Regions from separate parts of the Homo sapiens genome. Here regions 2 and 3 are each linked to region 1. Evidence: fine-mapped expression QTL. A gene starts in region 1. Each other region holds a variant in brackets. All regions are shown on one strand. Distances are from middle to middle.

Region 1 (5,223 bases):
AATGGTTGGGATCACAGGCGTGCGCCACCATGCCTGGCTAATTTTTGTATTTTTTGTACAGACGGGGTTTCGCCACGTTGGCCAGGCTGGTCTTGAACTCCTGACCTCAAGCAATCCGCCCGCCTTGGCCTCCTGAAGTGCTGGCTCACAGGCGAGAGCCACCGTGTGGTTTCATGATCTTTAAAGATCAGTCACTAGGTGGGGCGTTGTGGCTCATGCCTGTAATTTTAGGACTTGGGAAGGCCAAGACAGAAGGATTACTTGGGGCCAGAAGTTAGAGACCAGCTGGGGCAACATCAATCAAAAATAAAAATCATTGACCTTTCTGCCAAATCCATGATTGAAATTGTCTTTCCAGCACCCAAGCTTTATGCCTTTTGCCACCTGGAATATCCTAGCCCCTCTTGTCTGCCATCCATCAAATTCCTTTCTAAATGCCACCTCCACACTTTTGTTCATGCTGTTCCTGTCACCTAAGATACCCTAGGATAACTATATACTATTCCTCAGCCATACAGGGTATGCTTGGCTTTTATATCCATCATCAGACCCCTTACAGCTCTGTTACTATCTGCATTCACGTTCTGTACATGAAGAAACCAAGGCTCTGAAGATTAAATAACAGGCCCAAGTTACAAAGCTAGTAGGTGCTGGAGTCAAGATTCAAAACAGGTTTTGACTAAAACAACAGCGTTCTCACTTCATCATCCCCCCCACACCCTGCCCCCATCTTATCAAATCCTGCTCATCCAGTGTCACGGCTTTCCCAAGCACACCCAATCACGTGTTCTCTCCCGTTTTCCCCCTTATCAGGCATCCAAATGCCTCCCTTCCCCTCCTCCAGCCCACAGGCTTCTTAAAAGCAGGGCTGATACCGGGCGCGGTGGCTCACGCCTGTAATCCCAGCACTTGGGGAGGCCGACGCGGGCGAATCACGAGGTCAGGAGATCGAGATCATCCTGGCTAACACGATGAAACCTCCTCTCTACTAAAAATACAAAAATTAGCCAGGCGTGGTGGCGGGCACGCCTGTAGTACCAGCTTACTCGGGAGGCTGAGGCAGAATAGCGTGAACCCGGGAGGAGGAGCTTGCAGTGAGCCGAAATCGCGCCACTGCACTCCAGCCTGGAGGACAGAGTGAGACTCCGTCTCTTAAAAAAAAAAAAAAAAAAAGCAGGGCTGGGTTAGTCCCGCCCTTGATCCCTGCCCTTTGCCTCCACCAGGCTCCCTCAGCTTGCTCAGTCAATCCCTGCTGGGTCGATTGGCCCCTAAAAGGTCAATATCAACAACATCCTCAGCCCTAGGGAACAGCAGCAGCAGTCATAGGAAAACTGTCATCTTCAGACCCCACTGTGCCCCTCCTAGCTCTGTGTTCTGCTTAACTGTGGGAGTCAGAGAGAAGGGGCAGCCTGGGAGGCTTGATGTGCCTCTCTGAGTAAGACACTAAAGCAAGGCAGCAGGTACAAAGAAGAATAGTGATCATAACAGAGGAACATTTATTAAGCTTTCGCCGGGTGCACAGCACTGTGCTAAGAGACACAGAAACAATCTGGGAAGAGAGCTCAGAGCAGCGCGGGAGAAAGGGGCCACATCAGGAAGGGTTTTGTAAACCTTGTGCAAGATTCTATGCTGAGGACAACAGGTGGGGCGCTGGGGGTGGGGAAGTGACAGATCTGTTTGGAAGAAGCCCTCTAGCAGGTGTCAAAACTCTTCCCCTTCACCCTACCAGGCCCCTGGTAGGTAAAGACTAGAAAGGGATGGAAGCAGCAACATCTCCCTGATTTCTGAACCAACCTATGGTGGGTGGGGGAGGTTGATGAATTTAGTGGCGGAAACCAAGAATGCCGAACTGGGCCCCTGGAGTGAGAGGTATCAGACTGTACAAGAGACATTAGTGCAGAGGTAAAAGCTAAGAAGAGGCATAATTTGGAGTCAGGAGCCCTGGGTCAGGTGTGAACATTATCTTTAACTTACTATCTGAGTCTATTCCTACATCTGTGAAGCAGAGAAAACAATTCCATTCTCTGCCTATCCTCAGGAATACCAAATGAACAAATGAACATGAAAGGTATAATATGTGCCCTTTTCTCAACAGGCAGCTGACCCCTGAATTGTCTGCTGTGTTTCCTGTTTCACTCTCGGGGTCTTGTCTTCCTGCCCAGTCTCCCCACAGCAGGGTCTAGCACCAGGGTTGGGGGGTGGGGGCCCATCCTCCTCCTCCGGCTGGAAATGAGCTTTCAACTTGTTGAGATGGGGACCTTCTCCCTCTCCCTCCCCCACAGGTCCCAGAAGAGGCGACAGCTTCACCTCAGGACCACCCACCCCTCCCAAGCCACTGAGGAGTTTGGGATCAGCCCAGGAGCTCTTCACTCAATAGCTGGTGCTGAAACACGTGTAGGGCTGCTCCCCACCGCCTGCACGTTAAAATCACCTGAGGAGCTGTGCAATAATACCGAGGCCCAGGCCTCACCCAGAACAGTTAAATCGGAATCTCTTCGGGCGGGCCCAGCATCGGTGTTTTTCAAAGCTCCCCAAGTGCCACCAGGGTTAAATGCCTTTATGCTAATGGCACGGATCCCGACCTGACCAGTGCATCCCTCGATCCCAGACCACCAGGGAGCTATTTGACCCACTGCATCCCTTTCCTCCAGACCCCCGGAGAGCCTTTCTGCGAGGATTCCACCCTTGCCCCCTTGAACCCCGCTTCTTCCGCCCGGACCACACAACTCTCCCAATCCACAATATGATCACCCCAAAGACCCCCGCAGATAGCCCCCATGACTCCCAGAGCGCAAAGCATTCCCCTCCCCCTCGGGTCTGTCGTTTGTGCCAGATCGGCCCCAGCCCAGCCCGCTCCTGCCCGCGAGCCCCGGCCGCTGGCCAGCGTCTCACCGCAATCGTAGCCGGCGAAGCCTAATCCCACGGCTGGCGGGAGCCAGGTGCGAGCCAATGCGCCTGCGCGCACTTCTAGGGCTTCCCCAGCCTCTCCCTCCGCCCCCGCCCAGCGATTGGCTCCGCGCGGCCCCCGGGCGCAGCTCCGGCAGGTGACTGCGCCTGAGGCTGCCGCCGCCATGTTTGTCACGGGCGCTTGCCCTTAGCGACCAAAATTAAAAGCGGACACTGGCAAATAGGGTCAGGTTGCCTGGATTCCTGACCGGCTCAACCCCTCTCCTTTACCTCCACGATAGCTTAATGTCATTTCAGTTGAAACCAACACGTTTTTTCTAAGCGCTCACCTTCCTTCCCTCCTTGCCTAGTACTCGTTGGGAGAACAAAGAGAGGTCAGCATCCTCCATTGAGTCTTGTGGTCTGAGCGGATGCACAGCTGCAGCCGACTTGGAGGTGTCAGCGGCTCGATCTGGGACTCCCTGATGCTGCATCATGAGCCCTTCAAGGGTGGACAGGTCCAGGTTGAGCTGTGGGCACCAGGGCTCTAGCCACAGGAGCCAGGGCTGAAGGTGGGAAACAGCCACCAGGGCCTGAATGAGCAACCATGCAGCACAACCTCTTTGTATTAATAACGGCAATAATAAAACCTAAGGAGTACTGAGTGCTTGCTATGTGCACCGTACTACATTCAGAACAACACGTGCATTCTCTTGTTGAGTCCTCACATCATTCCTAGGAGGTAGGCGCTTTTATCCACATTTTATATGTGAAGAAACTGCATTTCAGAGAGATTCAATGACACGCAAACAGCAAGGGCCCAGTCGAGGTGGAACCCGCTATCCTGACTCCCATAACAAGAGTCTTTCCTCTTCCCACACCTGCACAATCCCTCAAAATCAAGTTTTGTTTGGCTCAATGTAGGCTGTGGAGGATGTTTTATGTTTTCTCCCAATTGGCCTGTAAGCCTGGATAGGTTTTTGGGCAAGCAAACAGCACACATTCCAGCTCTGCCTGGTTCCCCTACCTTGGGACACAGGGCAAAAAGCCTGTGGCCTTTGCCTTATGGGGGACTTGGAACTCAACCCCTAGCTCCAACACTTCTTTGCTAAGGGACTTCTTTATTATTATTTTTTGAAACAGGGTCTTGCTCTGTTGCTCAGGCTAGAGTGCAGTGGTGGCATGATCTCAGCTCACTGTAACCTCCACCTCCCTGGCTCAGATGATCCTCTCACCTTAGCCTCCCAAGTTGCTGGGACCACCACCTCACTCCACCATGCCTGGCTAATTTCTAGAATTATTTGTAGAGATGGAGTCTCACTATGTTACCCAGGCTGGTCTTGAACTCCTGGGCTCAAGGGACCCTCCCGCTTCAGCCTCCCAAAGTGCTGGAATGATAAGCGTGAGTCACTGCACCTGGCTGGGACCCTCCTTTTGTGAGTCTGTTTTATGCTTTACAGGGATTTTTCAGACATTAAATGAGAAACAAGGGTGTAGGAGCTTTGTGAACTGCTCATCCTTATGACCTTCATTGATGGTTGTCGGCTAACTTCCTGCAACAGGAATGTTGTCCTCCTCCTAACAACCACAGCAAATGGTCCAATGTAGACGCCTAGTGTCCAGGGGCTACAGATTATTCAACCAGTTCCTGAGGAGCCCCCAGGGATGCCATGAACCTTGCCCCCAGAATCCATCTCCCACTAACCTGTCTCATTTCCCTCCTTCCCAATCTCTCTCTTTCGGACACCCTTCACACTTCCCATGTCACCCCAAGCCACACATACACGCACACACATACATACAACCATCTCTCTTCTAGACTTAGACAACTGCTGAAACTCCTCCTGATCCAGAAAGCCTCATGAGTAGAAGACAGGTGATCATTTTGTCCCTCTCCTCACCTCTTACCTCCATCTGTGCTTTCCTGGCTGTGAGAACAGAAAACCCAGCATTCAGCCTGGGGTCCGGCACACTGGGATCTCCATACATTTGCTAAAGGAGTCTCCCCGCCTTTCTATCTGTGGCCAGCATGTGCTTTTATTTCAAAGCAAACCCGAGTCTTTACTTAGCCCTCCCTGGGTATCCAGTGGGGAAATGGAAATGGGGAGGGCTGGCAGGGGCCAGAGCTGGATGTGACCCAGGAGAAAAGACCTTTGGTCCCTCACAGCCAGGCAAGGTGGCTCACACCTGTAATCCCAGCACTTTGGGAGGCTGAGGTGGTTGGATCACGAGGTCAGGAGATCGAGACCATCCTGGCCAACATAGTGAAACCCCATCTCTACTAAAATACTAAAATTAGCTGGGCGTGGTAGCGTGTGCCTGTAATCCCAGCTACTC
Region 2 (5,223 bases), 30 kb before region 1:
AGAGTGAATAACAAAGACAGTGGCAGCTTATTTGCCAGGTACACAGTTCCTAGTTGTAAATACTGTTAAAGAAATGGACATAACCCTTTTGTATGCTCTTGAGCAGAATTTGTGTGGCTTGAGCAGAATTGAGGCAGCTCAGCTGCTCCTCATTCTCCACTGATTCTTCACCCTATGACTGGCATGGCAGGCCTGCTTGGGGGCTGCAAGGACACGCTGGGTCTGGTTCCACCTTGTGCATCACTCCCAGTGCTGCTTTCCCCTTTGCTGAACCGCCTCTGCCTGGGGCTTCTGTCATTTCAGCTGGTCATTCAGGTTCCATACTTTAGGTTCTATCTGCCAGTCATTTGCACTTGATTTTAATTTTACTCAGCCAGCATCTGTTGAGTACCCAGCAAATGCCAGATACTGCCAAAATGTATTTTAGCCTTAAGGAACTTCAACTGAAAAGAGACGAAAGTGGAAACCTTACATTGTAATAAAAAGCAGAATGAAGTGCATGCCACCTCGTGGTACAGGTAATGGAAATTTGCTGTGAGATAATAGGAAGATGATCATTCATTCCAACTGGGGATGTTTCTTCAGGAGGAAGGTGATGATATTTGAACTGGGCTTTTTATACTCTTTGCTAGGAAGGACAGAGAAGAAAAAACAAATCTGACTTCATAATCTGCCTGTTTACCCAGACTCTAGTCCTTTTGCTAGTAAACTAAAAATAAAATACCCAGGAAAATCATCTCTTAAAAATATCCAGGGTCTGAAGGACAGATCTCATCCTCTCTTGTTTTTAACCTCTGCCGGGAGACCCAATTAGTCTGTTGGCATCACCACACCCAGATGAAGGCAGTGAGCAATCATTGGAAGCCTGAGCAAACAAGTTCTAGGAGTTCCCCCCTTGCCTGTCCGTGCCTTGCTCTCAGAGCCCTTGGGTTTGTAGGCAAATTGCCCCTCCTTCCCAGTCTTTCAGCTCACTTGACAGCTGCACCTTTTCCAGGCTCCTTGTTGTACTGCCCAGTCCAATGAGTTTGCACATTGTCTTCTGTTTTCACTCTCTTCTGTTGGCAAAGATTCCTGCTCCCTTAGAGAACTGGCTGCCCTGCTCTCCTCTCATACCACTTTCTCTGCCCTTCAACCACTTCTTTTTTTTTTTTTTTTTTTTTTTGAGGTGGAGTCTCACTCTGTCTCCCTGGCTAGAGTGCAGTGGTGCGATCTTGGCTCACTGCAACCTCCACCTCCTGGGTTCAAGTGATTCTCCTGCCTCAGCCTCCCTGAGTAGCTGGGATTACAGACGTGTAGCACACCTGGCTAATTTTTGTATTTGTAGTAAAGACAGTGTTTTGCCATGTTGGCCAGGCTGGCCTTGAACTCCCTGGCCTCATGTGATCTGCCCCGCTTCGGCCTCCCACAGTGCTGGGATTACAGGCGTGAGCCACCACACCTGGCTTCCTTCAACCACTTGCTTCCTCCACCAACCTCTGTCTTGCCAAAGGCAAGCACCAGATGGCCAGTCTCACTCCCCCTCTTCCTGCAGAAGAGCAGGAATAAGAGAGTCAAGGAGGGAAGCAGGCATGTTGCTGGGAAGCCTTTGGTGCAGATAACCTTGGCTACTTAGAGTCTCCAGGTGTGTTCAGTGCTTGTAGAATGAGGTCAGTAAATACCACACTCCACCCCAGGAGAGTGGTCAACAGGCAGCAGGAAAAGGCTTGCCCCAGCTACGGGTGCAGCTGCAAACCATGTTGGGTTAGAAAGGTGAGGGTATCAGGTGTGGTGGTAGAAGAGTTAAGAAGGAAGAAGAGGCCAGGCGCGGTGGTTCATGCCTGTAATCCCAGCACTTTGGGAGGCCGAGGCAGGTGGATCACAAGGTCAGGAGTTCGAGACCAGCCTGACCAACACGGTGAACCCTCATCTCCACTAAAAATACAAAAATTAGCCAGGCATGGTGGTGCGCGCCTGTAATCCCAGCTATTCAGGAGGCTGAGGCAGGAGAATCGCTTGAACCCAGGAGGTGGAGGTTGCAGTGAGCTGAGATTGTGCCACCACACTCCAGCCTGGGTGACAGACCGAGATTCTGTCTCAAAAAAAAAAAAAAAAAAAGGCCGGGCACGGTGGGCTCACGCCTATAATCCCAGCACTTTGGGAGGCCAAGGCGGGCGGATCACGAGGTCAGGAGATCGAGATCATCCTGGCTAACACGGTGAAACCCTGTCTCTACTAAAAAAAAAAAAAAAAAATTAGCCAGGCATGCTGGTGGGCACCTGTAGTCCCAGCTACTCAGGAGGCTGAGGCAGGAGAATGGCATGAACCTGGGAGGCAGAGCTTGCAGTGAGCCCAGATTGCACCACTGCACTCCAGCCTGGGCGACAGAGCGAGACTCCATCTCAAAAAAAAGGAAGAGGACAGGGTGTATCTACAAGCAATACTAAGCCTTGACATCTGTCCTGCACAGGGTTGGTCTCTGTGTCCAGAGTCACTGTTTACATTGATTGGGCCCTGGGTGGTACCTGAGATGCTGGGAGAACTCAGATTCTTTTCTGGACACCTCACTCGACATACCAAGTGTTGGAGCAGCAGGACTGTGGTTCTCTTCTATTCTCAGAGTAGGCTTTAGTCTTTGCTTCTCTTTACCATCAGGAGACCAAGGAGTAAAAGGAAAGCATAGTTAAAAAGAAAACAACAACAAAAATCTCCCAAAGCATCGTGCTCTGCCCTTGCAATAAGAACCAGACAGCACGTGTTCCATGGGAGTCCATTTCAAGCATGACAGTGCTCATGGCGGTGTCTGTCACAGAGGCCCTGGAAGCTGGGAGAGTTCAGGCCTGAGCTGGGAAAGTAGGTTAAAAGCACCCCAGGGTGGCGTAACAAGGAGTCATGTGCTTTTCCTACCTTATGTTCCTGAACTTGGCTGCTTTGATGCTTCTAGGTACTTTCTTCTTTCCCCAGGTTTTCTGTCTTTTTCTTCCCTTTATTACTAGTATTTTTAATTCCCAAAGCAAAACATGTTCAATGTAGAAAAGTCAGAGACTACAGAAAAATCACACATACGGTTGTGTATACAGTGAGAATCCTCCTCACCATCCTATTTCCACTTCCCTTCTTTTGGTGTGCATTTACCTTTTTCTAGGTTCAAATAAATGTATATATTATATACAAATATTAGTTTTGTTTT[T/G]TTTTTCCTGTGAGACAGAGTCTGTCACCCAGGCTGGAGTGCAGTGGCACAATCTTGGCTCACTGCAACCTCTGCCTCCCAGATTCAAGTGATTCTCCCACCTCAGCCTCCCAAGTAGCTGGAACTACAGGTGCCTGCCAACATGCCCAGCTAATTGTTGCATTTTTACTAGAGACAGGCTTTCACCATGGTGGCTAGGCTGGTCTCAAACTCCTGACCTCAAGTGATCCGCCTGCCTCTGCCTCCCAAAGTGTTGGGATTACAAGTGTGAGCCACTGCGCCCGGCCGCTTTCTTTTCTTAAATAAAAATGGTACCATATAATGTATTTTTCCTTTTGTATTTGTGATAGTTCTGACTCCTCATTCTCTCTCCTCTTTCCTCAGGGATCCGGTGTGATTAAAGCTGGTTTTGCTGGTGATCAGATCCCCAAATACTGCTTTCCAAACTAGTAAGTCATTCTGTAGCTTAGACGTTTTGGAGGCTCATCAGCTTTGTTACAGGCCCAGCCCTATAAGGGACAGGAGCCGAGTTTGGAGTCAACAAAGGAAAACAGTTGTCTACATGGTACAATTTGAGAGGCACAGATAAGAGGCCTCTTTTTAAAAATCCAATTTTATCTGATGCTAAAAAATTTTATCATTGGTAACTTATTGCTTTGGAGGATTGCCTCTTGGTGGAGCCCTCCTTTTAAAATTCTCCTATCACCCAGGCTGGGGATTAACATTTAACCCATCTACCATCTTTTTTTTTTTTTTTTTTTTTTTGAGACGGAGTCTCGCTGTGTTGCCCAGGCTGGAGTGCAGTGGTGTGATCTTGGCTTACTGCAAGCTCTGCATCCCGGGTTCACACCATTCTGCCTCAGCCTCCCGAGTAGCTGGGACTACAGGCGCCTGCCACCGTGCCTGGCTAATTTTTTTGTATTTTTAGTAGAGATGGGATTTCACCGTATTAGCCAGGATGGTCTTGATCTCCTGACCTCATGGTCTGCCTGCCTCGGCCTCCCAAAGTGCTGGGATTACAGCCCTTCTACCATCTTAATGAGGAGTTTCTCAGAACTTTCCTCCTAAGACAGAGAGACTGCAGGCAGGAGAAGAGCACAGAGGCTTACAGGAAGGGCTTAAAGGGGGAGGAAAGGAAGAGGCTATCTGTCCGATCTATAGCATCACAGTTTTTTTTGTTTTCTGAGATGGAGTCTCATTCTGTAGCCCAGGCTGGAGTGCAGTGGCGCAATCTCGGCTCACTGCAACTCCTGCCTTGCAGGTTCAAGCGATTCTCGTGCCTCAGCCTCCCAAGTAGCTGGGATTATAGGCATGTGCCATCACGCCCAGCTAATGTTTGTATTTTTAGTAGAGATGGGGTTTCACCATGTTGGCCAGGCTGGTCTCAAACTCTTGACCTCAAATGATCCACCTGCCTCAGCCTCCCAAAGTGCTGGGATTATAGGTGTGAGCCATCGAGCCCAGCCCAGCATCAGTTTTACTTAGAGGTCCTGGGAAGGGGACTAAGGACACTAAAATGTTTTGAGTTAATCACTCCTTTAGAAATTCTCATTTCCTCATCTTTCTTGGTCTGTTCATACACTGCAGAAAGAGAAGAACTAGAGGTATTAAATACTCTAAAAATTTGTTTTCATAATTTATAATAAATATAAAATATGAAATAATATATAAATAATACATGTTCATTTTAGAAATTGTGGAAAATACAGAAAAGTATAAAGAAGAAAATCAAAATCAACTGTGACTTCACTCCTTGAAGATAATCTCAGTAGAATTTGAGTGTGTATGTACATCTATACATCCTTCCTGTGTTCTGTCATGAAATGAAAAATGATGGTCCTCCTCACTGTCTTTTCTAGTGTGGGCCGACCCAAGCACGTTCGTGTCATGGCAGGAGCCCTTGAAGGCGACATCTTCATTGGCCCCAAAGCTGAGGTAATTCCCAGGCCTACAGAACAAGCCTTAAGCCAGCAGAGGACCTTCATTATTCACCACATGGAACATGTCCCAACATTTGGACATACCCATAAGTAAAAGGGGCAACTTTCTCTGAAAAT
Region 3 (5,223 bases), 240 kb after region 1:
GACCAGCCTGGGCAACATGGTGAAAATCCATCTCTACAAAAAGTACAAAAATTAGCTGGGCATGGTAGCGCCCACCTGTGGTCCCAGCTACTCAGGGACTGAGGAGGGAGGATCACTTGAGCCAGGGAGGTCAAGGCTGCAGTGAGCTGTGATCGTGCCACTGAGCTGTGATCACACCACTGCACTCCAGCCTGGGTGACAGAGTGAGACTCTGTCTCAAAAAAAAAAAAAAAAAGCTAGGTGCAGTGGCTCACGCCTGTTATCCCAGCACTTTGGGAGGCTGAGGTGGGCAGATCACCTGAGGTCAGGAGTTCAAGACCAGCCTGGCCCACATGGTGAAACCCCATCTCCACTAAAAATACAAAAATTAGCTAGGTGTAGTGGCGGATACCTGTAATTCCAGCTACTTGGCAGGCTGAGGCAGGGAGAATTGCTTGAATCTGGCAGGCGTGGGTTGCACTGAGCAGAGATTGTGTCACTGCACTCCAGCCTGGGCAACAGAGCGAGACTCTGTCTCAAAAAAGAAAAAAGAAGAGGAAAAATCTTCAGAAATTATATTCTAGAGGAAACATTCCTTGACCCTTGGACTTGGTCTGGTACCCTTATTTTATATAAACTGTTCTCAGAGCATGGTATTTCTTTTCTTCAGTGAGAGTTTATAATTAGTTGTTTTTGTGATTTCTTGATCAATGCCTGTTTTTCCTACTAGTTCTTGAGCTCCATGAATGCAGGGACTATGTCTATTTTTTAAAATTTTTTATTATGAGACAGAGTCTTGCTCTGTCGCCCAGGCTGGAGTGCAGTGGCCTGATCTTGGCTCACCGCAACCTCTGCCTCCTGAGTTCAAGCGATTCTCGTACCTCAGTCCCCTGAGTGCTGGGACTACAGATGTGTGCCACCACGCCTTGCTAATTTTTGTGCTTTTAGTAGAGACAGTTTTCGCCATGTTGGCCAGGCTAGTCTTGAACTCCTGACCTCAAGTGATCTGCCCACTTCAGCTTCCCAAAGTGCTGAGATTACAGACATGAGCCACTGCCGGAATATGTCTGTTTTTTTCATCATTCTCCTAACCCTGAGCATAACCCAGGTAATATTTGTTGCGCAAGTGATTGAATGGATGAAATCCTTGGCATGTAAACCTGAGTGACATTATTTATTCTCCAGGATAAATACTCCAAGCCTATCTTTTGTGTGGTCACTGGTTTTGTTTTGTTTTTTTTCCCCAGTAGCCCTCCTGAAAGCCTCAACATAGAGGAAGAAGCGCTAAGCATGGGATGGTGTGAGCAGATGAATAACTGAGCAGGCTTTGGAAGTTTATAGAACACCAATCACTTGTATTACCTGGTGCCAAGTAGCTGCCTTCTGTGTCTATGAGTTCTCAACCCAACTTCTTTCTCTCCCTATTTCCAACTGCCTGTTGGACATCTCTACCGGTATGTTCTGCTAGCATCCTTAGCAATACACACCCCAAACAGAATTTGTTATCTACCTCCAAAATAGGCTGATTTTTCCAGCCACTATTTATATAATTTTTCAGGCTAGAAATTGTGAGGTCAAGTTATATTCTTCTATAGGACACAAGGTCCTGTCATTTCTTCTGGAGGTGGCATGGTCATCAGAATGCCTATATTCAGATTTTATCTCTGCCACTTACTACCTAGGTAACCTTGGCGAAGACATCATCAAACATATCATGGCCTCAGCTTTCTCATCTGTACAATGGAGATAACTACTTCAGAAGGATGTTTATGAGGATCAAATGAAATAATATATGTTAAAGAGCATTGGCGGGGCATGATGGCTTATGCCTGTAATCCTAGCACTTTGGGAGGCCAAGGCAGGAGGATCACTTGAGGCCAGGAGTTCAAGACCAGTCTGGGCAACAGAGTGAGACTCTGTCTCAATTTAAAAATAAATAAATAAAGAGCATTATACAATGTAAAGAGTTGAGTAAGCATCAGTAATTATTTACAAAAAAAGCGACATTTTTACCTTCTTTTTTTGTTTGTTTGTTTGTTTTTTGCGATGGAGTCTCGCTCCTGTTGCACAGGCTGGAGTACAGTGGCGCGATCTCGGCTCACTGCAACCTCCACCTCCCGGCTTCAAGCGATTCTCCTTCCTCAGCCTCCAGAGTAGCTGGGATTACAGGCGTGCGACACCACGCCC[G/A]GCTAATTTTTGTATTTTTAGTAGAGACGGGGTTTTGCCATGTTGGCCAGGCTGATCTCGAACTCCCGACCTCAGTTGATCCACACGCCTCGGCCTCCCAAAGTTCTGGGATTACAGGCGTGAGCCACTGTGCCTGGCCTGAAATGTTGTTTTAAGTAGGTCAGATAAAGGGTTAATGTGCATACTACACAAAAATCTTATTCATAGTCTTATCTTCGACCCTTGGTAAATGGCTAAGGATACAAACAAGCTCATTTCATACACTCCAGTGTCTCCAAATCTGCCTCTCATTTGCTGCCAGAAAGGTCTTTCTAAAACACATGAGCTCATGTCATTCCTCATTAAGAACAAAAATAATCCTCAGGACAAAGATCAGATTCCTGAGTTTAGCCCTGACCATTCATTTCCAGCCAAAATCCCACCATCCCTCAGCCCCAGCATTCCGCATTGTAGCCATAATGGACAACTCTACATACTTTTACCCCTTTACCTCTCTACGCATCTTTCCCTCTCCCCCCAGCATTCCGCATTGTAGCCATAATGGACAACTCTACATACTTACCCCTTTACCTCTCTACGCATCTTTCCCTCTCCCCCCATACATCATTTTCTCACCTGGACAAATCTTAACTCTAGCTCTAGCTCTAAAGTCACTTGCCCTGCAAAAGCCTAATATATTTCAGAGTCAGGCCCTTCCTTCTTTGTCTTTCATTCAAAAAACTTTGCCCAAACTGCCTGCCAGTATTGTGCTTCTACTTGTGGAGGACAGTCAGTCATATATTTTCTGTACTATTCTGGCTCCCTCACCCTATCCCAAATGGTCATTTTCACTAGGTCACTCATCCTTGAGGGTAGCACATACTACCTGGCACATAGTGGGCACTCAAAATATGTCTGTTGCTTTGAATTGAGTAGGCACCTAAGAGGAAATACAAACAATAAACATTTTTTTAAAAGACTCAACTTTCTTAGTAATTAAGGAAATGCAAATTAAAGACTGTATGTATAGTGTGGTCCCAATTAATAGCTAAGCAGCAATTAAATACCTAATGCCAGTCAAAGCTTTAGGAAACAGGTGCAATCACACCTGGCTAGTGGCCAAGTAAACTGATATAATCCTTGTAGAAACACACTTAGGCAACACTTAGCAAGAGCTGGTATGCTTTGACCCAGTGTCTCACCTAGGAATTCAACCCAGTGAAATAATCCAAAAGAAAAAAAAATCTGTATGTATTAATATATATATATTTTTACATTCCACTGAACATTTAATAAGTTACATTCAGCTACAACTTTTTTAAAGGGACAAATTATAATGCAAGTATTTATTCAAATGCTGACCATTAAAACACCATCTGAACCATGTCAAATAATACTCATTTCCTTTTGTGAAATGTGTTAATGAGAACTTAAGAATTTCTATAGAAGGCTGAGCATTTTCAACATCCCCAGCCTAGATGAGAAAAGACTGTATTCGCTTAGTGGTGATTCAGGAAATACAATACAAAAGGAGCTTCAACTCCTATGTGGATACAAGGCTGGCATCCACGATGGATGGGCTCCAGAAAACAATCATGCAGTGTTCCCGTTTTGGTCTGAGAACCAAGACACAAAATCTGATCTAGGGTGAAACTACATATAGGACATGGAGAGGACTGGACCAAGGGGCTCACTGTATCTGGGGGACCAAAGAGAAAGTAGTGTGCAGATATTGCTTTGACCTTAAAATAAATGTTAAGTGAGACAAAGAAGAAGCCAGGAGCCTTCTCACAACCTTTCCAGGCCAGCAGCTCCCAAGATATTTACTTCAAGGTAGTTGGTAGGAAATATAAATGTTCACTGGCTCTGACTCAACAATTAAACCATCATAACAGATGCAACGTTGAGGAGAGGCAGCTGTCAAACCACCTATAAACTCGAGTGGGGATCAGCTTGAAAGATGCCTATCTATTATCAGTGTCTGGGAAGACTAAAAAAAAAAAAAAAAAAAAAAAGGCCAGGTGAGGTGGCCCAAGCCTGTAATCCTAGCACTTTGGGAGGCCGAGGCAGGTGGATCACCTGAGGTCAGGAGTTCGAGACCAGCTTGGGCAATGTGGTGAAACCCCATCTCTACTAAAAATACAAAAATCAGCCAGGTGTGGCGGCACATGCCTGTAATCTCAGCTACTCGGGAGGCTGAGGCAGGAGAATCACTTGAACCCGGCAGGTGGAGGCTGCAGTGAGTGGAGATCCCGACAGAGCAAGACTCTGTCCAGCCTAGGCTGGAGTGTAGTGGTGCAACCACGGCTCACTGCAACCTTGACCTCCTGGGCTCAAGCAATCCACCCACTCAAGTAATTAGGATGACAGGCATGTGTCACCACATCAGCTTTTTTTTTTTTTTTTTGAGATAAGTTCTCGCTATGTTGCCAAGGCTGGTCTTGAACTCCTGGCTCAAATAATCCTCCCTCTTTGGCCTCCCAAAGTGCTAGGGTTATAGGGATGAGCCACTGCACCCAGCTGAGACTGTTAATTATATATAAAGAGTACTTGACCAGACACAGAAAATATTAATAAGTGTGGTTTTCTTCCCCATGAAAACCAGCTTTTTAAAAAAATTGAATGTTCCCAATGCAAAGAAATGATAAATGTTCCAGATGATGGATGTTAATTGCCCCAATCTGATCAGTATACATTATAATGTATCAAAACATCACTATTTGCCCCATGAATATTCACAATTTTACTTGTCAATTAAAAAAATGATTAAATACTTTTTAAAAAAAGCAGTGATTTGTAGAGCAGGTTTCTGATGATTGTAGACTGGATTGTAAACCTTTTGTAAATGCTTGCATTTAGTGGCATTTGTTATTTGCAGTAAAGGGCCAATCACAAGTAATACATAAATAGACTATTATTCCTTTATTGTAAGTAGCTTGTTGCAAAATAAATATGTCAGCTATTAATGAAATCATTTCAAAAAGGAAAAAAATTAGCCTTACAAAGTAATATCAACTGATTAAATTTCAACCTACTTTAATTCCCCATCAATGGCCCAATAGCCTGGAACATTCAAAG

Evidence for each region. PIP is the estimated chance that this variant, and not a neighbour inherited with it, causes the effect.
Region 2: its variant is the best candidate, but not a certain one, in a credible set for the expression of SLC68A1 in whole blood (TOPMed, PIP 0.67).
Region 3: its variant is the best candidate, but not a certain one, in a credible set for the expression of SLC68A1 in whole blood (INTERVAL, PIP 0.50).

The regions. Positions count from the first base shown.
Region 1 is chr10:102,459,120-102,464,342 of GRCh38, reverse strand. SLC68A1 (solute carrier family 68 member 1) reads right to left here and starts at 2,948. Exons shown (of 10, transcript NM_024789.4): 1 at 2,893-2,948. It overlaps LOC124902493 (a long non-coding RNA gene), which reads left to right. Exons shown (of 3, transcript XR_007062270.1): 3 at 2,283-3,550. RefSeq lists enhancers at 1,866-2,548, 2,549-3,232, 3,360-3,429 and a silencer at 2,870-3,089.
Region 2 is chr10:102,488,941-102,494,163 of GRCh38, reverse strand. It overlaps ACTR1A (actin related protein 1A), which reads left to right. Exons shown (of 11, transcript NM_005736.4): 2 at 3,551-3,615; 3 at 5,026-5,101. Among named protein-coding and RNA genes, the nearest start is that of ACTR1A, 11 kb to the left of the region's middle. The variant T/G (reference allele first, on the strand shown) is at 3,167.
Region 3 is chr10:102,218,870-102,224,092 of GRCh38, reverse strand. No RefSeq gene overlaps it. Among named protein-coding and RNA genes, the nearest start is that of ELOVL3, 4.8 kb to the left of the region's middle. The variant G/A (reference allele first, on the strand shown) is at 2,167.